2 separate regions of the Homo sapiens genome follow, and region 2 is linked to region 1. The links come from fine-mapping of genetic effects on plasma protein levels. A gene starts in region 1. The other region holds a variant in brackets. All regions are shown on one strand. Distances are between the middles of the regions.

Evidence for each region. PIP is the chance, under the fine-mapping model, that this variant and not a neighbour inherited with it causes the effect. Protein levels are from the aptamer-based SomaScan assay of Sun 2018.
Region 2: its variant is fine-mapped to the plasma level of the CPM protein (Sun 2018, PIP 0.95).

What each region holds. Positions count from the first base shown.
Region 1 is chr12:68,926,955-68,937,821 of GRCh38, forward strand. It overlaps CPM (carboxypeptidase M), which reads right to left and starts at 6,217. Exons shown (of 9, transcript NM_198320.5): 1 at 6,188-6,217; 2 at 5,724-5,886. The coding sequence starts at 5,883. RefSeq lists silencers at 6,097-6,456, 6,487-6,596.
Region 2 is chr12:69,033,833-69,044,699 of GRCh38, forward strand. No RefSeq gene overlaps it. Among named protein-coding and RNA genes, the nearest start is that of TODL, 32 kb to the left of the region's middle. RefSeq lists enhancers at 8,769-9,270, 9,271-9,770. The variant G/C (reference allele first, on the strand shown) is at 5,792.

The sequences.
Region 1 (10,867 bases):
GTCTATCGTTGTTGGACATTTGGGTTGGTTCCAAGTATTTGCTATTGTGAATAGTGCCGCAATAAACATACATGTGCATGTGTCTTTATACCAGCATGATTTATAGTCCTTTGGGTATATACCCAGTAATGGGATGGCTGGGTCAAATGGTATTTCTAGTTCTAGATCCCTGAGGAATCGCCACACTGACTTCCACAATGGTTGAACTAGTTTACAGTCCCACCAACAGTGTAAAAGTGTTCCTATTTCTCCACATCCTCTCCAGCACCTGTTGTTTCCTGACTTTTTAATGATCGCCATTCTAACTGGTGTGAGATGGTATCTCATTGTGGTTTTGATTTGCATTTCTCTGATGGCCAGTGATGGTGAGCATTTTTTCATGTGTTTTTTGGCTGCATAAATGTCTTCTTTTGAGAAGTGTCTGTTCATGTCCTTCACCCACTTCTCGATGGGGTTGTCTGTTTTTTTCTTGTAAATTTGTTTGAGTTCATTGTAGATTCTGGATATTAGCCCTTTGTCAGATGAGTAGGTTGCGAAAATTTTCTCCCATTTTGGAGGTTGCCTGTTCACTCTGATGGTAGTTTCTTTTGCTGTGCAGAAGCTCTTTAGTTTAATTAGATCCCATTTGTCAATTTTGGCTTTTGTTGCCATTGCTTTTGGTGTTTTAGACATGAAGTCCTTGCCCGTGCCTATGTCCTGAATGGTAATGCCTAGGTTTTCTTCTAGGGTTTTTATGGTTTTAGGTCTAACGTTTAAGTCTTACACCAGTAACAGACAAACAGAGAGCCAAATCATGAGTGAACTCCCATTCACAATTGCTTCAAAGAGAATAAAATACCTAGGAATCCAACTTACAAGGGACATGAAGGGCCTCTTCAAGGAGAACTACAAACCACTGCTCAATGAAATAAAAGAGGATACAAACAAATGGAAGAACAATTCCATGCTCATGGGTAGGAAGAATCAATATCGTGAAAATGGCCATACTGCCCAAGGTAATTTATAGATTCAATGCCATCCCCATCAAGCCACCAATGACTTTCTTCACAGAATTGGAAAAAACTACTTTAAAGTTCATATGGAACCAAAAAAGAGCCCGCATTGCCAAGTCAGTCCTAAGCCAAAAGAGCAAAGCTGGAGGCATCATGCTACCTGACTTCAAACTATACTACGAGGCTACAGTAACCAAAACAGCATGGTACTGGTACCAAAGCAGAGATATAAATCAATGGAACAGAACAGAGACCTCAGAAATAACGCCGCATATCTACAACTATCTGATCTTTGACAAACCTGAGAAAAACAAGCAATGGGGAAAGGATTCCCTATTCAATAAATGGTGCTGGGAAAACTGGCTAGCCATATGTAGAAAGCTGAAACTGGATCCCTTCCTTACACCTTATACAAAAATTAATTCAAGATGGATTAAAGACTTAAATGTCAAGCTGCTTTTTAAAAGAGAATAGAGAGGTGCTTGGGAAATAGGCAGATCTGAGTTTGAATCTTCTAATACTTAGCTATGTTATCTTCAGCAAGTTAATTAACCTCTCTGTGCCTCATTTTACCTGTTTTGTAAATGAGGATAAGGCCTACTTTGAGTTGCTGAGATCGAAATAATGTCTTAAACTATTTACTACATGGAAAGTACTTGATAACAGAGACTACTAAATTTGGCTGGCTTTAAAAAATCTCTAATAGTATTATCACTAGTAAGGAAGGTGTTATTATCCCGCCTACTGTATTCAGATACAATGATGATCAGACTTAGCAGGAGGCAAGACAAGATACTTTTTTTTTTTTTTTGAGACAGGGTCTTGCTCTGTAGGCCAGGCTGGAGTACGGTGGCACGATCATGGCCCACTGCAGCCTTGAACTCCCAGGCTCAAGTGATTCTCCTGCCTCAGTTTCCCAAGTAGCTGGGACCACAGGCATGCACCATTATGCCTGGTTAATTAAATTTTTTTTTTTTTTTTTAAGAAATGGAGTCTCCCATGTTGCCTAGGCTGGTCTCCTGAAGTGCTGGGATTATAGACGTGAGCCACCACACCCAGTCAATGCAAGATTCTTAAAATAGATGGTAGGAAATCTCATTTAAAATGGCCCTTTGGGGTTTTGTATGTAGCAGAGCAGTTCTTTCATTGCTATCTATTGATAGTCAACCCTCAACACAAGGGTTCATTTTTTAAAAAAATAATAAAATGTTCCTAAACTAATTTTGGGGTGTGTGTGGAGAGACTACCCTGAGAAATTCACAGTAAATACATTTGTATTTGAAAATGAGCTACCTAATGGCAGGGAATGAATGACACACACGTTTGTTTGCTTCCCATGCCTTTTGCTCAGCAAATATTTGATCCATTAAATAAATAGATATAGATTATTGATTATGTGCCAGGCATCCTTCTAGACAAAGGGGTTGGGGCAAAAAATGGGAGGTGCTTCCTTAATTGAACGGAGGATTGAACGAACGAACTGATGAACACTGTACCTTTTCTGATTTTTCTGAACTAAGTCATCAGTACTTTTTTGCTTCTCTTGTTTCACCTAAGATTTTCTTTACTATGTCACTAGGCAGTGGGATTTCCTTCAAAAGGCTCAACTGAAATATGGTCTACTATGGCTGAAGCTGGGTATAGATGTGTTTAACTTTTGTGTGGATTTTAAAAGTTTCAAAATAAAAACGTTTTTAAAAATCACCAATAATAATAGAAGGTAATTATCATGACATGTATCAATGGTTTTATAGTATCCCTGTTTATAACAGAGTTAACCAAAAACTATACAGATGCTCAAAGAGGTGAATGACTAAGAAAATTCACATAATCAAGAGGATAGAATACTAAACAGCAACGAATTCACATCTACCGACTTTGTCAATTCATGGAAATATCTAAGGAAATAACATGAAATGAAAAAACAAGCAGAATATAATCCACAATTACAACAAAGAAAATATGTGATATGCATATATTTACATAGGCATAGCACATATATTTAAGTTTTTACAAAAACTAAACATGTATTTAGTTACTTAGGAATATTACTTTCCCTTCTGGGTAAGACTGCCCACGTTAATACATGTAATATAAATAAATAAATAAATAACACGTGTATAATAAATTCTGTTTATTTTCTTTTATTTTGAGATAGAGTTTCACTCTTGTCACCCAGGCTGGAGTGCAGTGGCATGATCTTGGCCCACTGCAACCTCTGCCTCCTGGGTTCACGCTATTCTCCGGTCTCAGCCTCTCTAGTAGCGGGAACCACAGGTGCACACCACCATGTCTGGTTAATTTTTTGTATTTTTAGTAGAGACAACGTTTCACCATGTTGGCCAGGCTGGTCTCAAATTCCTGACCTCAGGTGATCCTCCCGCCTCGGCCTCCCAAGGTGCTGGGATTACAGGCATGAGTCACTGGGCCTGGTCATAAATTCTGTTTTCTAAGCAAACTTATCTTACATCAGAGGGCAGAATGGTTAGGGAAAATATCTAGTGAAAAAGACCACCAACAAAGGAGCACCATCTCTCAATTGTCACACTAATGTGCAGTGACACTTTGGCAACTGACTCCCAGTTACTGGCATACAGTTTCATCTACCAGTTGGAGCCAAATGGCAGATTTGGGATTTTTCTTAATCCGAGTTATTATTCAGAACAACATATTCAACACAAATATTTAACCACTAGTGTCAGATTTTATTTTTACATGATAACTCCTCAAGCCTTTAACCGCAAGAGTGCATACAAGGTAAAATTAAAAACAAAATTAAGCCTGCTGACTTTCACTGTGATTGTGGTTTGATATCATGCAGGATAGATCACAACTGCTGATTCATATTAGGAAAGAGAGCCCCCAACTGTCACAAGCACATTGTGTTTGAAAATACAAAACCTTACCAAATCACTTAGTACTTAAAATTAACAACATCCTCATCATCTTGTGGTTGAAATGATGACTGAACAATAACTCAAGCTAGTTGTGTTCTATATATTTTTAATTAATATAATTAGTATTCCTAGATCTTTTTAAATTGCTCTACTCTAGCCCTAGGGAAAAATGATTTCAGAAGGCTGAATACGTATGCTGATTCAAGATATGATTTCTCACACACCCAACCTCTATAATTTTGGATTATAGAGCAATATAGAGTAATTCTGGCACCATCTCTTTGGCAATGCTGTTTAAAAACAAAGTTACTATTACACACAGCCCAGGATATTGACTTCGCATTGCACATAAATACATTTATATAATACTTTTTCTTTAATATAGAAGCCATAGCCTTGATTTTTTTGAAAAATGATGAAGAATATGGTAATTATGAGACTCTCAATTGACTCAAAAGTTCAGAGCTAAAATCAAGGTAGAGTTTGAACACACCTTACAAAAAGTTGAGATCCAAATTGCATAAAATTTATGAAACTTTTGATTTAAGGACTAAGTTTTCTGGTAACCTCTTTGGGAACATCAGGATAATAAAAGATGATTAAGTAATAATGGTATCTCGGCCGGGCACGGTGGCTCATACCTGTAATCCTAGCACTTTGGGAGGCCGAAGCAGGAGGATCACAAGGTCAGGAGTTTGAGACCAGCCTGGCCAATATGGTGAAACCCCATCTCTACTAAAAATACAAAAAAATTAGCCAGCTGTGGTGGCGCATTCCTGTAATCCCAGCTACTCGGGAGACTGAGGCAGGAGAATTGCTTGAACTCAGGAAGCCGGAGGTTGCAGTGAGCCGAGATCACGCCACTGCACTCCAGCCTGGGCAACAGAGCGAGACTCTGACCAAAAAAAAAAAAAAAAAAAAAAGAAAGAAAGAAAGAAAGAAAGAAAGATGAAATAACGATATCTGATCAAATTATTTGCCTTGGCCGGATGGGTGCCAGTCCTGGCTATAAAATTCACCATCTGGGAGACCTTGAACAAATTATTTAATTTATCTGATTCAAACTTGCTGTCTATAAAAATGAAAATAACTTTATGTAGTTTCTAACTTAGAACAATAAATTATTAATGATAAATATGAAAATGCTGGGAAGAGTTTCAATCACTACTAATATATATTCATTATCTAGCATTGTCTTCTTCAAATGGATACATTTTAAAAACAGCCTTTAATCATAGAACCACTTTTTTGCATAACTTTAAGCCATAGGGCTAATTATACACGACACAAATCTAACCAACAGAACTGTACTACTTAGATTAAAAGAAACTTGCAGAAATGATAGTTTTGCATAACTTTAAATAAAAGGCTAACTACAGATGACACAGAAATCTTACCAACAAAACTGCATTATTTCAGTTTAAAAGAGACATGAAGAAATGACATTAACAGTCCAAGTCATATATAAAGAAGCCCACACAAAGGGGAACTGAAACGGATAAACGGACTTACTTGGGAGTTTATCTTGAAAAGGAACTAAAACATACATCCCAAATAACCAATGTCTGCAAGATCCAAAAAGACAGAAGAACTCCAATAATGGAAAGGACTCAGTGACACTGAATTACAATGGACAAGTCCAGTAAAATTCAGTTCTTCCTACTATTCCTCCCAACAAAAGCAGAAAACAACCAACACGCACGGTACCGGTTGACTTGTTCTGTGCCACTCAGAGTAGGTGCGTGGAAGAGCAGACAGGAAGCTGGGGCATATTTAATGAATACTGAAAGGGAGGACTGAGGGTTTGGCAAAGTGTTCACGAGACGGACCCTACCTTTCACAGATTTCCCAATACTGTGTAAGTGAGTGACAGAACTGTAGTTTTGGGCAACAGTCTTCAAAAACGCTTCCATCCCTTCCTGGCGGTGGTAGTTGAAATCCAGCGCAGCTACCAAAGGCAGCAACAGCCCTAGCCAGAGGCACGGGAAGTCCATGTTCTAGAGATGAATAAAAATAAGAAGAACCTGAGAACACATGAGGGCAGGCGGGGGCATCACCAGCTACGTCTCGGTACTCCGGTCTCAGGGTCTCCCGACACTGACGCTCCCTGCCTCCTAAGGAGGCAAAAGCTGGAAGCAACACCTTCGGGAGTGAGCCGTGCAACCAGAGACCGGGAGCACGGGCAGCCTCGGTGCCCTCGACCCAGCCGCCCGCGCCTCCCTCTCCTCCTCCTCCTGGCGCCTCCGCCGTCCGGCAGCTGCCACAGCTGCGCCCGGCCCCGCGCACCCCCAGCCTCACCAGGTCCCAGGCGCGCACCTCTACCCACCCGCGGCCGCCCGGCGGGGCCGGGTGTTATAGCCCGGTCAGAGGGCGGGCGCGCCCGGGCCCCGCCCCCGGACGTCCCTCCGGCCCACTCCGGAGCCGCGCGGGTGCCTCCCGGGCGGGGCCTCAGCCGCCTTCGCACCTAGGAGAGACGGCGCCCGCGCGGTGCGCCCTTTCGTGGCGCGGCTGCTGGTGCCCGCGGCCGGGCGGCTGAGCTGGGCGGAGGGCTGCGGGCATGGAGTCGCCGCTCGCGGACAGTCTTTGCTGGAGCCCCAGGTCAGAAGTGTGTCCTCGCCTCGGCCACGGCTGTAGCCTGGGCAGCCACAGGGCGCTCCACCGAGGGACACTCTCTGTCGCAGACTGCAGCCGCTTGGGAGACGTTTAGGGCTCGGCGGGTTTCCTGCGGTTGGCGGTGCCGGGGCCCACCTGGAGCCGGGACGCATGCGGAGTCCTGAGTGCCCTGAGCCCCGCGCGGGCTCCTGCGGGACGGGCGGCGTCGGCCCCGGCAGGGCGAGCCAAGCTCCCAGCAGTGCCAAGCTGCCCAGCGAGGCTAAGCAATCACGGGGCTTCGAGAAAGAACGCGCGCGTGTGTGGAAGTTTTAAATGCCACGAAGTGCAGAGTGCAGGACATTTTCCAACAAGTTTACATAGTGGGTGGGATTTGTGTAAATTAGAATTGAATTTAAAACTGGAAGTCACATCGAAGAAGGCAGGACCACTGTTGTAAATCCGATGCTTCCTCCACCTGCACCTGAGTCTTAGGCCAATTACAGGTCTCTCGTCCTAAAACGTCCTAAAATGCTCCTTTCTGGAAGGATGGCATGGTCTCTGCACGAGAGAGAACGAAGGCTTCACTCAAACCTGAGAGGTGGTTTGTGGCACGGGCCAACCCCCTCTACCTCTCTAAAAGATTCATTCTCATTCATTCTCTCTCTCTCCCCTCCCCCTCTCCCCTTCCCTCTCTCCCCCTTTCTCCCACTCTCTCCCGGATTGTAAGTAACCGTGTCAGGGTATTGGGGGCCCGTGTCAAGGTCCGCAGAATATAAAAAGTTTGAAAACCACTGATTTGAGATAACATTCCACTTTTACAGACTAAAAATACGGATGCAAGCCCACGACTAATTGAATAGAATTTTTCTCGTGGAGGCCCAAGAAAGTGTATTTTTAGAGAGGACCTTGAATGAATCTAATGTGCCTTCAAGAGCTGAGAACCGTTAGATTCCCTGCCCCTTCTTTCTTACAGATATAGATACTTTTCCTAGAATTGCGCACTCAGGACTCCCTGAGACTTCCAGTGATTCTGCCGCAGCATAGAAGAGTGGTTTAAGAACTGAGGCGCTCTGCCCTTGCGATAGTTTGCTGAGAATGATGGTTTCCAGCTTCATCCATGTCCGTACAAAGGACATGAACTCATCCTTTTTTATGGCTGCATAGTATTCCGTGGTGTATATGTGCCACAGTTGTGCACATGTGCCCTAGAACTTAAAGTATATATAAAGAAAAAAAAAGAACTGAGGCGCTCACGGGATGAGTGCCAATTCTTGCTCTGACACTCAGTGGCTGTGTCGACTCTGTGCCTTATTTTCTGGTGTGTAAAGTGGAAGTCTTAATTGTACCTACCTAAATAAGGTTGGCAGGCACATTGTAAGAACTGTGCGAAGCGTTTATTACATAAATAAACCAGCTTAATTCGTAACTCTTTAAAGGGAATTTTCCAAGAGTTGGAATTTTTTTTTTAATTTTTTATTTCTTTCTTTATTTTTTGAGATGGAGTCTCAATTCTGTTGCCCAGTCTGGAGTGCAATGGCATGATCTCGGCTCACTGCAACCTCCTCTCAGGTTCAAGCAATTCTCCTGCCTCAGCCTACCGAGTAGCTCGGATTACAGGCACCTGCCACCAGGCCCGGCTAATTTTTGTATTTTTAGTAGAGACGGGGTTTCACCATGTTGGCCAGGCTGGTCTGGAACTCCCGACCTCGGGCGATCTGCCTGCCTCGGCCTCCCAGATCGCTGGGATTACAGGCGTGAGCCACCGTGCCTGGCCATCTTTTTTTTTTTCTTAAAGAGAAGTTGTTTTATTGTTTGTTTGTTTGTTTGTTTGTTTGTTTGTTTTGAGATACAGTCTCACTCTGTTGCCCAGGCTTGAGTGCAGTGGTGCAATCTCAGCTCACTGCAGCCTCTGCCTTCCAGGTTCAAGCGATTCTTGTGTTTCAGCCTCTAACGTACCTGGGATTACAGGCACGCATCGCCACACCTACGTAACTTTTGTATTTTTACACCACACATGCCTAACTTCTGCATTTTTAATAGAGACCAGGTTTCACCATGTTGGCCAGGCTAGTCTTGAACTCCTGGCCTCAAGTGATCCTTCTGCCTCAGCCTCCCAAAGTGCTGGGATTACATGAGTGAGCCACCTTGCCTGGCCTAAGAGTTGGAAGTCTTAGTATGACATTGTAGAGTCTTTGAGTAGGTTTTTTTTTTTTTAATTGTGCAGTAGTCACTATGCTAAATGTTATTTCCACTGGAAGGGTTGAAGACGTTTCCCTTTCATTGTTGTTCATTGACTAAGAGGTCTGAGGAGGGGGACTGGAGCTTGAGAAGATTAAATTTAGGCAAAGTTACTCTAGGAATGGGAAAGGGAACTGGGTGGGAACAAAGTGAAGGCTTGCTGATGTACCTTAGAAATCCTATCTTTTTAAGAGAAGTACGTGGACACTATCTGATTTCCTGCAGGGTGCTGTGGCTGGAGACTGGAAGAAATGGTGGCTTCATCAATACTGGAATGGAGATTGCCAGGATTGTTGTTCTGGAAAAACAGAGATGAGCTATAGTTGAAATTGCTGCCATTGGGGTTCACACTAGGTAGGAAGGGAGGCAACTTCAGGAAGGAGTCAGAGAATGGAGGTAGGGGGTACAGAGGACTGAGTGCTGAAGGTTTAGGAGCTAGTAACTCAGAGTGCAGGCCAGGGACAGCACTGGCATCACCTGGGAGCTTGTTGGAAATGTAGAATCTGTCACTCCACTCCAAACCTACTGAATCAGAACACACATTTTAATAAGATTTCCAGATGATGTATATGTACATTCAAGTTTAAGGTGCACTGGTCAAGAGAGAAAAAAAAATTTAGTGTTAAGAGTATGAAAGATAACAGCAAAATAAAAGGTTAGCCTAATAGAGTAAAATACTGAAGTTTAGAGATTTTAGAGGTGATCTTCTTTCTTTCTTCTTTTTTTTTGAGATAGAGTCTTGCTCTGTTGCCCAGGCTGGAGTGCAGTGGCACAATTTTAGCTCACTGCAACCTCCACCTCCCGGGTTCAAGCAATTCTCCTTCCTCAGCCTCCTGAGTAGCTGGGATTACAGGTGCCCACCACCACGCCTGGCTAATTTTTGTATTTTTAGTAGAGACGGGGTTTCACCACGTTGGCCAGGATGGTCTCGAACTCCTGGCCTCAAATTATCTGCCTGCCTCAGCCTCCCAGAGTGCTGGGATTACAGGTGTGAGCCACCAGGCCTGGACCTAGAGGTGATCTTTCTAAGTATGGCACCATTAAAGGTAAAACCATAATAAAAAGGCTAATAATTTGAAAACATACAAATGTATGACTTCTGTACAGAAAACCTTATAAAGGTTATAAGAAGAAAGGTTTAAATCAGGTTATGAGAAAAATTACAAGCTGGAAGAAGGAATTAATGCTCTTACAAAATAAAGAATGAGCAAAGGAGATGAATAAGCAGTTCATAAAAGCAGTAACACAAATAGCTAATAAATATAGTAAAGGTTACCAACCTGGTAAGCAATCAAAGAATTACAAGTTAAAAGGGTAAAGTAATACTTTGTTTTGCTTATCACAAAGCAAGATTAAAAAGATTGACAATACCTGGAAGTAGACAGGATCTCAGGAAATGACATTTATGCTGTTTCAATGGTGTTCTAAATTAATACAATCTTTCTGGAGGGAAATCTGGGAATAGACATCAAAATTTTGTATGTGCCATTCCTTGCTAGAAATTTATGCTATAGAAGTAATTTGAAGATGTGTTGAGTTTGTATATGTTAGGAGCTTCATAAGTGCTGCTGCTTTAAATTGTGACAAAGTAGATAAAACCTAAATGTCAAACAACAGCAGATTGGTTAGATCAGTGGTTCTCAACTTGAGGCAGTAGTGCCCACAGCAGACATTTGGCAATATCTTGAGACATTTTTGATTGTCATAACTAGGGATGGGAGCTACTGGCATCTAGTGCTGATACAGAGGGCAGGGAGGCATTAAATATCCTTCAGTGCACAACACAGCCTCCCACAACAAAGAATTATTCAGCCCAAAATGTCAATAGTGCTGAAGTTAAGACACCCTGGGTTAAAGAATATTATAGCTGTACAATTAATTGTTTTTCAGCCATAATAATGTCAATGTAGATCTGCATTTATTCACTTGGAAAGACAAATTGTTCAGGCAAGAAGCAGATAATAAAAGTAAAATAAATAGTAAGATCTCATTTAGATAAAGCAAACAAAAAAAAACTATTCCCAGCAATGTGTTTCTAAGGTTACCAACATGCTGAGTGCAAATCCACGAGTTGCAATGTTTTAATTTTCTTTTTTACATCTTTCTGTATTTTCTGAAAAGTTTTTCCACCAAACATGCATTGCTTTT
Region 2 (10,867 bases), 110 kb after region 1:
TGGGTCTACAGGCACCCACCACCACGCCCAGCTAATTTTTGCACTTTTAGTAGAGATGAGGTTTCACCATGTTAGCCAGGCTGGTCAAAATGTTTACTTTCTCATGAAATCCGTCTGTGGCAAAACTCTAAATAGTAGAGTTTATGTACTCTAAATAGTGACCTGGATTTTCTAATAACAACCCAGAGGACTTTCCTGTTTGGATTTATTCAGGCTCAGGTGACAGAGCTATAAATTTATGTAGCTAAATATTTAGCAGTGTTGACAAAACTGTTTCTAGTAATTAATGGCACATCTGGAATTAAATTCTCTTTTTCTTCATCCTTTATTCTATGTTTACAATCCCACCAGATGATACACCTAGTTTAAATGGTCTTAAATAGAGGCTGGGCACAGTGGCTCACACTTGTAATCCTGGCACTTTGGGAGGCTGAGGCAGGTGGATCACCTGAGGTCAGAAGTTCCAGACCAGCCTGGCCAACATGGTGAAACCCCGTCTCTACTAAAAATACAAAAATTAGCCAGGCATGGTAGCGTGCATCTGTAATCCCAGCTACTCAGGAGGCTGAGGCAGGAGAATTGCTTGAGCCCAGGAGGCGGAGGTTGCAGTGAGCCGAGATTTCGAGATTGCCACTGCACTCCAGCCTGGGTGACACGGCAAGACCCTGTCTCCAAAAAAAAAAAAAAAACAAAAAAAACGAAAAACAAAAACAAAAAAGGTCTTAAATAATGCCCACTTAACTAACTTTTTAGTTATTTCCTTCATCTGCAATTGTATTTTCTCTTTTTGGGCTCAAACCTTTTCTATAAAATTGTATTTAATTCCACAGTCCTTTTCTTTATTATTTGTTATCAGCATGATTTTATTTGTGACTAATTAGACCAATCCTCACGGCAAGAAGAATTAAATAAAATAACATTTCTATTTTAGAAGACCCAAAGAAGTACAAGAGTTAGTTACAATTTTAATGGACTTACAGATTTCCAATAATAAAGACAATTAGGTAATAATATGATTTAAACTCAAGGGGATGGTCTAGGACACCCACCCTTTTTGAAAATTATAGAAGCTCATTATGGTCACTATTAAAAGGATCTGGGCTTCATGTGACCCATTAGAATTAAATAAAAGGATGGAATCCTGTGGTCTGGACAGGAGCTTTCTGAGTACAATTAAGAAGCTCAGTGCACTGGGTCAAAAACATCAGCTATGGTTTGGGCTGACGTTATTTTCTCATTGAAAAGATTTATTATTAAATAGAAAAATGATGAAATAAATAAAACTCAAATTATTTATACTTCCATGTTAAGTTTAGAATAATCTGTGTTTTTCTTGTATTCTAAGTGCTTGCAGTATTTAAGAATTTGGCATTTTAAGGAATCTAGCAAGTTGTGATTCCAATTTAGAAAGAGTTAATTGGGTTGATTTAGACTTCAGAGGAATAAGATAATTTTACTTGGATTACAAGCAATAATGGAATAATTAAAAGAACTTAAGTTTAACCATCTTTGTAAATTTAATTAGATGTACAAGAATTATATAAATATACAATAAAGTTCATTTGATAACCAACTAAGGCAAAAAAATTTATTTATATTAAAATTATAAGTATAATTTTAAATGCTTAAAAGATTAAGCTGTAAAGGCTAAAATGTGATTATTGAACTCTTCTAGATTTGTATTAATAAATGCAACAATAAGATTTATAAGTTGACATCTTAAGAAAGAACAAAACTTTTTCAGTTGTCATTTAAAATGTAAAGGAATATAGAAAAGACCCGAGCAATCTTTACAGGGCATGAAAGCCACCTCTAAGAACACCAAAAATCTCCCCTGAAAATTTTCTTTCTTTTTTCCCCTATTGTCCTGTAGCTGCCCCTGACACCAATATCTTCTTTTTCTTCTCCTAGCACCAAAATGCTATGCATCGCAAAATAAAAATTTAGAATGTGATCATCTTTAAGCAATAATTTGTAAAATGTTTTGTAAATTGAAAATGAGACCTTTGCAGGAGAGGAAAATAAAGGGAAAAAGATTCTAAGTGGATTTATTACCACAGAACTGTATGTTTAAAAATGGTAAAGATGAGGCCAGGTTGGGTGGCTCATGCCTGTAATCCCAGCACATTGGGAGGCCAAGGTGGGTGGATCCTGAGGTCAGGAGTTCGAGACCAGTCTGGCCAACATGGCGAAATCCCATCTCTACTAAAAATACAAAAATTAACTGGGTGTGGTGCGGGTGCCTGTAATCCCAGCTACTCAGGAGGCTGAGGCTGGGGAATCCTTGAACGCAGGAGGTGGAGGTTGCAGTGAGCTGATATCTCACCACTGCACTCTAGCCTGGGCGACAGAGTGAGACTCCGTCTCAAAAAGAAAAAGAAAAAAAAATGGTAAAGATGGTAAATTTCATGTTTATTTTACCTCAATAAAAAAAGGAAAAAGAAAAAAGTTTTAATGAAATGTTTGCTTTATTCTTTCATGTTGTCACTTACTGGACTTCTGGACATTGGTCTGTACAGGTACAGAAGCCCTCTCATGCCATAAAGGTAAAAGCAATAGCAATAACCTATTAAAATAACACTAAAGCTGCAAAGAATTCACTCTTTTGCATGAGTGTGGCAGACAAATATTAAATGTGGATGAATAATTCTTTTTAGTCTCAGCATCCTTGAATTTGCTTGGTCCTTGAAGTAATTGCTTGCAGCATCGTTTACAAACTTCTTTTGAAAGTGACAGATGATAATCTTCCCCAACCCGAGCATCTTTGACATTGAAATGTGCAGTGTGAGGTTTCTAATAAGTCCATATGGGGTAGTGAAGCTCGAATGGTGCTCCACAAGCCCTCCAGGTTCCGTAGGGACTCCGAGGTGACAGCCTGGGCCTCCTTCCTCCTTCAACCAGAGCAGCTTCACTTCCGTCTCTTTTACATATCAGGCTTCTTGTCAGATTTCATTTAAGAGCAGCTTTCATAGCTTTGCAGATTCTGAAAACCACTGGGCCACAGTAGGCTTTTTCCAGAGCAGTGGAAACACTGTGCGAGGAATGTAAACTGCACAATGGGATGATATTAACTTGAGGGATCACTGGGCTGTTTTTTTTCTAAGAAATGTAAAGAGCTTCACAAATACTGACTTGGGGAATTTACTAGCCCTTTAACTAAACTGCAGGGGCAACCACCCTACATTATTTCCTTTGGAAATAAGATCATTCTTGTTTTCTTGGATATTTGAAGACTCTTCTTGCTTATATTTAGAAACTTCTCTCATTTTATTTGGCACTGATGATATAGCCTAGCCTTGTGAGCCTGTGGGCTATTCAAGGTTGCCAGTGTGGCAGAACAAGTCTTTTTATGTCTGCTTTCCTAATGCTCAACAGCTACTGAGCCTAAAGTAATAAGAGAGAGCTGTTTAAAATTTAACTCGAAACCAAGAAGGAGACAACGACTCTTAGCATAATACGAAAATGCTAGTAGGAGGTTTTGTTTTTGTGTTTGTGTTTTTCACTGTGTGCAAAAGCTCAGGTTGTTTTTTAGATGCTTTATTCCGTGGTCCTGCAATCAGACTGCCACAGGGGCCTCTGTGACTCTCTTGCTCCATTCATCTTTCAAGGTTTTTTGTTTTTTTTTTTGACAGAGTCTTGCTCTTGTCACCCAGGCTGGAGTGCAATGTCGTGATTTCAGCTCACTGCAACCTCCACCTCCTGGATTCAAGCGATTCTCCTGCCTCAGCCTCCTGAGTAGCTGGGATTACAGGTGCCCACCACCACGCCCGGCTCATTTTTTTTGTATTTTTAGTAGAGATGGGGGTTCACCATGTTGGCCAGGCTGATCTCGAACTCCTGACCTCAGGTGATCCACCCACCTCAGCCTCCCAAAGTGCTGGGATTACAGGTGTGAGCCACCTTGCCCGGCCCACTTTTCAAGGTTTTAAGGACCTTCCACCCTACTTGACCCATCCCTCATCCATCACAGGAGCTTGAATTGACTGAGAATGACCAATACCAATGACCAATGACCGGGGCAGAGGTTGGGAGGCAACACAGGAAGTGGAATAGAAAGGGTTAGAGATGGCTGAGTGAATGTGTTTGGGGGGAAGAAGACATAAGGGAGAGGGGTGTCAGGGTAGTAGGTGGTGATCTGAGTCATGTGAGGTACCCAGGCCTCTAGAGCCAGGGCCCTGTTTCATTAAAAATCTCCAAAACCTCTTTTGCCTTAGTTGAGACACAGCGTTTGAGCCTTCAGTAAGGACCTGAGTGAGGGTTCTTCAGGATTCTAAGTGTTTGCTTGACTTACAGTTCTACAATAAAATTATATTTTAGAGAAGATTTGAATCATTATTTTAAGATGTGGCAAAATGCAGGCACAATGCTCTCTCTAGATTGGATCACACTTTTAAAAAAATCGCAGTGACATGGAAGTTTGAGGACACTTAGAGTCCGGTTGAAAAGATTTTCTGGTCTCTTATTTTCTCCATGATATTCCATGCTAAGCAATATTCAATTTTTCCTTACCACTTGCAACGCTGGTCTGAAAATGAAGCTTTTTACTTTGTCTGAATGACTCTGAGCCTTGAGCTGGCATTACCCACTAGACAGCACAATCCAGTAGATCCTTCCATGATGATAGAAATATTCCATATCTGCAGAATCCAATATGGTATCTACTAGCCACATACAGCTATGGAGCACTAGAAACGTGGTCGATGCCACTGAAGAGCTGACTTTTTAATATTTTTAAATCAATTTAAATTTAAATACCCTCACGTGGCTAGTAGGTAATGTCTACATTCTTGGGGGTAGAAAAGAGAGGGCATGTTCATGCATTGCTGATGAGTCCAGCAGTCCTGGTGGGCTGCATTTCCTAAGGTGGGAGGCGTCTTCTCAGTCATTTTATTATTTTTTTCAGGGAATAAATTATAGGCCCTTTGTGACAATCACTCATAATTTTCCTATGTCGTTTGGGATGCCAAAGGGCAAGCTTCTACATATTTCTAATAGCAATGTTAAACCACAAGCAGGCACAATCTTTAAGAAGATTTTGGGCAAAATAGAGCCTTTCTCTGGGAAGCGGCACCCAGAGAACTTTGAACAAATAGTCCAGTCTTTTAATTCTACCCGCTTTCTATGAGAAGGAAAAACTGTTACCTAGTGATGTCAGAGGTCCCAGATCCTGGGTGGGATAAGTTCCTGAGGTCCTCTATCACTATTACCCTTCCCTGTAATGACAGGAGACCTCATGCTGGAGAGAGTGGTAACTCCCTCTGGTCAGCAATTTGACTCCATCCAAATCCAGTTATTAGTCCAACATAACTGTGATTTTGAACACTTATTTATTGGGCACCTCTTCTGTGCTAGGTGCAAGGGTTATCTCCTGTAATCTTTATAACAATGAAATCAATACTATTATTATCCAATTATGTAACCAAGGAAACTGATGCTTAGCAAGGTTAAGTAGCTTTCTCAAGGTCAAGGTGAGTGGTGGAGCAAGCAGGTAAACCCATGTGTGTCTAAGGCCACAGCCTATGCTCTAGTCACCAGGTAATCATTGATCTCTCTGGAATATCCACAGTTGGAAAGCAAGGACTTTGCAACTTGCTGCTGAATGTATTTCTTTTCTTTTCTTTTTTTAGACCGAGTCTCGTTCTGTCACCAGGCTGGAGTGCAGTGGCGCAATCTCGGCTCATTGCAACCTCCACCTCCCAGGTTCAAGTGAGTCTCCTGCCTCAGCCTCCCCAGTAGCTGGGACTACAGGCGCACACCAACACACCCAGCTAATTTTTGTATTTTTAGTAAA[G/C]ACGGGGTTTCACCATGTTGGCCAGGATGGTCTCGATCTCTTGACCTCGTGACCCACCCACCTTGGCCTCCCAAAGTGCAGGGATTATAGGTGTGAGCCGCTGTGCCCAGCCGCCGCTGAATGTATTTCTTACCACCAATCTGTTCAGTCATTACTATTCCTTCCCCCTTTCCTAAGTACCATGGGAAATGAAGCATAAAGCACTCAAAGTCCAAGGAAAAGGCAACATTCAGGATTCAGTTCCAGAATGTCTGCCTCTTCCAGACCCATGCTCCCACCAGTTGGCCATGCATTCTCAACTTGCATGCCTATGTCATCTGTCTCTTCTGACCCTGAAGAAAGCTTCTATTCACTCCATGAGCACCTGCACCTTCACTGAGTCAATAGTGAGTGGCTGCTATCTGCACCAAAATCCATTGCTCAATATTCTTTCTTCTCCATTCCAAATGGTTCCTCATTTCTGTGAAAGCCCACATGGTCTTACCATATGTCTCGTTGTCTTGGTAGTAAACGCATTTTTAAAAACAAATATGTCAGCATCATTTTGTTTTTTTTCATTAGTGGTCTCATGTTACAGTCATAACAGGTTGCATAATGGTTACATCTAGTACAAAATAATGCTATTGTGTTTTCTCTTGGAGGCTGTTATCTAGTTACATTGCTTGTGACTAGCTAAGGAGGATATTGTAGAAAAACAAAGACCTTCAAGGTAGACAGACCTGACTCTGAATTCTGACTTTATCATCCATTCATTTAAAAATATTTATTCAAGGCCAGGCGCGGAGGCTCATAGCTGTAGTCCCAGCACTTTGGGAAGCCGAGGCGGATGGATCACCTGAGGTCAGGAGTTCAAGACCAGCCATGGTCTTGAAATCCCATCTCTACTAAAAAATACAAAAAATTCGTTAGGTGTGGTGGCACACGCCTGTAATCTCAGCTACTTGGGAGGCTGAGGCAGGAGAATTGCTATATATATATATTCCTGGTACGTAGTAGGTCCTGAATAAATATGTATATATACTCCAATTTTAACATTTCCTATGCCCCTTCCCTGCTTTATTTTTCTCCTCAGCATATCATTGGCTAATATAGCTTTTTCTCCTCATTTGTCTTGATTAATGTCTATCTCACTCCACTTGAACATAAGCTCCATGAAGACAGTGTTTTTTTCTTTTTCTTTTTCTTTTTTTTTTTAATACAGTCTTGCTCTGTTGCCCAGGCTGGAGTGCAGTGGCTCAATCACAGCTCACTGCAGCCTCGAACTTCTGGGCTCGAGCGATCCTCCCACCTCAGCCTCCCAAGTAGCTGGGTAGCTGGGACTATAAGCATGTGCCACCATGCTCAGCTAATTTTTAAAAAGTTTTTCTTAGAGATGGGGGCCTTGCTATGTTGTCCAGGCTGGTCCTGAACTCCTAGCCTCAAGTCATCCTCCTGTCTCACCCTCCCAAAGCACTGGGATTAGAGTTGTGAGCAACCATGTCTGGTGTTTTATTCACTGCTTCATCCCAGCACTTAAAATGATCCCTGGCACATAGTAGGTCCTGAATAAATACGTGTGTGTGTGTATATACATATATACACACACAGATATATACACATATATATACATATATACACATATATACATATGCATATACATATATACATATATACACATATATACATATGTATATACATATATATACACATATATACATATGTATATACATATATATACACATATATACATATGTATATACATATATATACACATATATACATATGTATATACATATATATACACATATATACATATGTATATACATATATATACACATATATACATATGTATATACATATATATACACATATATACATATGTATATACATATATATACACATATATATATGTGTATACATATATATACACATATATATGTGTATATATATATATATACACATATATATATGTGTGTATATATATATATACACATATTTATTCAGGACCTACTATGTGCCAGCAATAATAATGTATTGATTGATATATGCCTGGCACATAGTAGGTCCTGAATAAATATGTGTGTGTATATATATATATATGTGTGTGTGTGTGTGTATATGTGTGTATATATATGTGTATATATGTGTATATATATGTGTATATATGTGTATATATGTATATATGTGTATATATGTGTATATATATGTGTGTGTGTATATATATATATACACACTCAGGACCTACTATGTGCCAGGAATCATTTTAAGTGCTGGGATAAAGCAGTGAATAAAACACCAGACATGGTTGCTCACACCTCTAATCCCAGTGCTTTGGGAGGGTGAGACAGGAGGATGACTTGAAGCTAGGAGTTCAGGACCAGCCTGGGCAACAAAGCAAGGCCTCCATCTCTAAGAAAAACTTTTTAAAAATTAGCTGAGCATTATAGTCCCAGCTACCCAGCTACTTGGGAGGCTGAGGTGGGAGGATCGCTTGAGCCCAGGAGTTCGAGGCTGCAGTGAGCTGTGATTGAGCCACTGCACTCCAGCCTGGACAATAGAGCAAGACCGTATAAAAACAAACAACAAAAAAAACAGAAAACAAAACACTGTCTTCATGAAGCTTACATTCAAGTGGAGTGAGATAGACATTAATCAAGACAAATGAGGAGAAAAAGGTATATTAGCCAGTGATATGCTGAGGAGAAAAATAAAGCAGGGAAGGGGCATGGGAAATGTTAAAATTAGAGTAGCCCGGAAAGGCTTAACTGAGAAAATGTCATTTGAGTCAAGGTTTAAAGGAGGTGAGGCAATGGATGTGCACACATTAGTCTAAATTTCTAGATACTTGATTTACTCAACTCTAAAGTGGGAACAAAAGCCACCTTGTTAATGACTTGTTCTGAGGATCAAGCCCAGTCATGAAGGGTATGTGGCCCAGGCATTGAATGGGTACATGACGGCAGCTGGCATTACTGTTCGTCATCGCCAGCAGCAGCAGCGCCATTAGAAACAGCCACTTGCTGGAACTGGAGATGGGTCATTTATACATTTACTATCCTCAAATGACCCTGCTGAGGAAACTCAGGTAATAGTTGGATTCTGAATATTGAATGAAATATGCTAGCCTTGGAGGAGCGACATGTGGTTTCAATATTTCTATCAGAATCTTGGCAGGAAATAAAGGGTGCCCTCATATTGGATAATTTGAAGAGTTTAAAAGAAGGCTATTTAAAAGATCGTCAAAGTGTAGGGAAAAGAGTAGTGCAGTGCCCAGAATTAGTAATGACAAGCACTGCTACCACCCCTCTATCCCCCATCCATCCCAGACCTGACAGGACAAGAGGAGAAGGTGCTTACCAGAGGCAGAGTCAGAGGGCCCCATGGAGAGGGCGCATGACGGGGCATGTGTGGCCTTTGGTGGGGAGATACAGCCAGCCTGCAGTGACTCCACAGAAAGGGAGCTGGAGAGTGAATACACCAGTGTCATTCTCCTTAAGCCCATCAGGGCTCCCCACTGGCCAACCCAGCTTGAAGTCACAGGGCAAGAGAGCCTGTGGAGCCGCTCCTGCAGGTCAGCCTCCCAGGGACCCAGCAGGTGGAGAGGGTGGGAGGAGCCCAGGCAGACACCCAGCAGAGTAGTGAAAGCAAATCAGTCATGACTCCCAGTGAGCCAGGCCACTCACTATTACTATTCTCCTCTGTGTTCAGGGAAAGCAACCCAGTTCTTTCCTTCCTTAGACGACCCTTTCACCACATTTGTTGCTTTCCTCTGGGTACTGCTCTTCCTCCTGCCCCTCCTAAGGTGCAATATTTGGTCAGGTGTTTGAGACATAACCAGATACATTAAAAATAAGGCCCAGTTGTGCATAAAGCCAGAGACTATACTGCTAAGCCCAGCCCATCTCTACCCCAGGAATGGTACTGGGACAAGAGTGAGATGGTCAGTTTGTCACTCACCAACATGAAAAAGGCAAGGCCAAACATGGTCTTGTCCAAAAGTGTATCAGTGTCACCGTTTTATTTTTTTAATGGGGCTCAAGCTATGACATTAAGTAAAAAAGGAACCAGATGTGAAACCATGTAAACAATACAATCTCAACCATGTAATAATTATGTGAATGTATAGAAATAAGACTAAAAAGAAATACTCAAACTCTCTGCATTGATTATTTATAGAATGTAGATTAGGATGATTTTTTAAATCCCTTATCCATATTTTTCCAAGTTTTATCAAGGAAAAGTTGTTCCTTTTAAAATAAAAGAGAAAACAGTAAAAACTTATTGCTGTTTGTTTTTTTTTAATAGAAGGAACATGACCTGTTTCCTGTAATTCACATCTCTATTTATCTCCCCAGTAAGTTATAACTTTCATTTGTGGGAAACTTTATTCCAGGATCACTAAAAAAATTTTTTTTTTACTAAACTGATTATTTTGTTGTTTGTAAAGAAAATGATTTTATAGATAATTTTGTGGTTTTTTTGTTTTTTGTTTTTGTTTTGTTTATTTTTTTTGGAGATACAATCTCGCTGTGTCCCAGGCTGGAGTGCAGTGGTGCAATCTCAGCTCACTGCAACCTCTGCCTCCTGGGTTCGAACGATTCTCCTGTCTTAGCCTCCCAAGTAGCCACCCGGGATTACAGGCGCCCGCCACCATGCCTGGCTAATTTTTGTATTTTTAGTGGAGATGGGGTTTCACCATGTTGGCCAGGCTGGTCTCGAACTCCTGATCTCAAGTGATCCACCCACCTTAGCCTCCCAAAGTGCTGAGATTACAGGCATGAGCCACCATGCTTGGCTGATAATTTCTAAAAAGAGAATGCTAAGCAGTTTAAAATATATTTTCTAAATGCTGGTTTACTTTTGATTCATGTTTATATGTATAATACTAAAAGTATGCTTTGAGAGCTTCAGTCCGTGGGCGTCAAGTTTATTCTCACCAGCTACTAAAATTCTTAGGCTAGAAATATATAATTATAAAACATTAAATGTAATCTAATTATCATTTTCTTATATTGGATTAACCACAAAGTGGATCCAGAGAGACGGCTGTTTTAGTACAGTGCAATTTTTTCTTTACTCTAAGCCCAATCCTGTTTT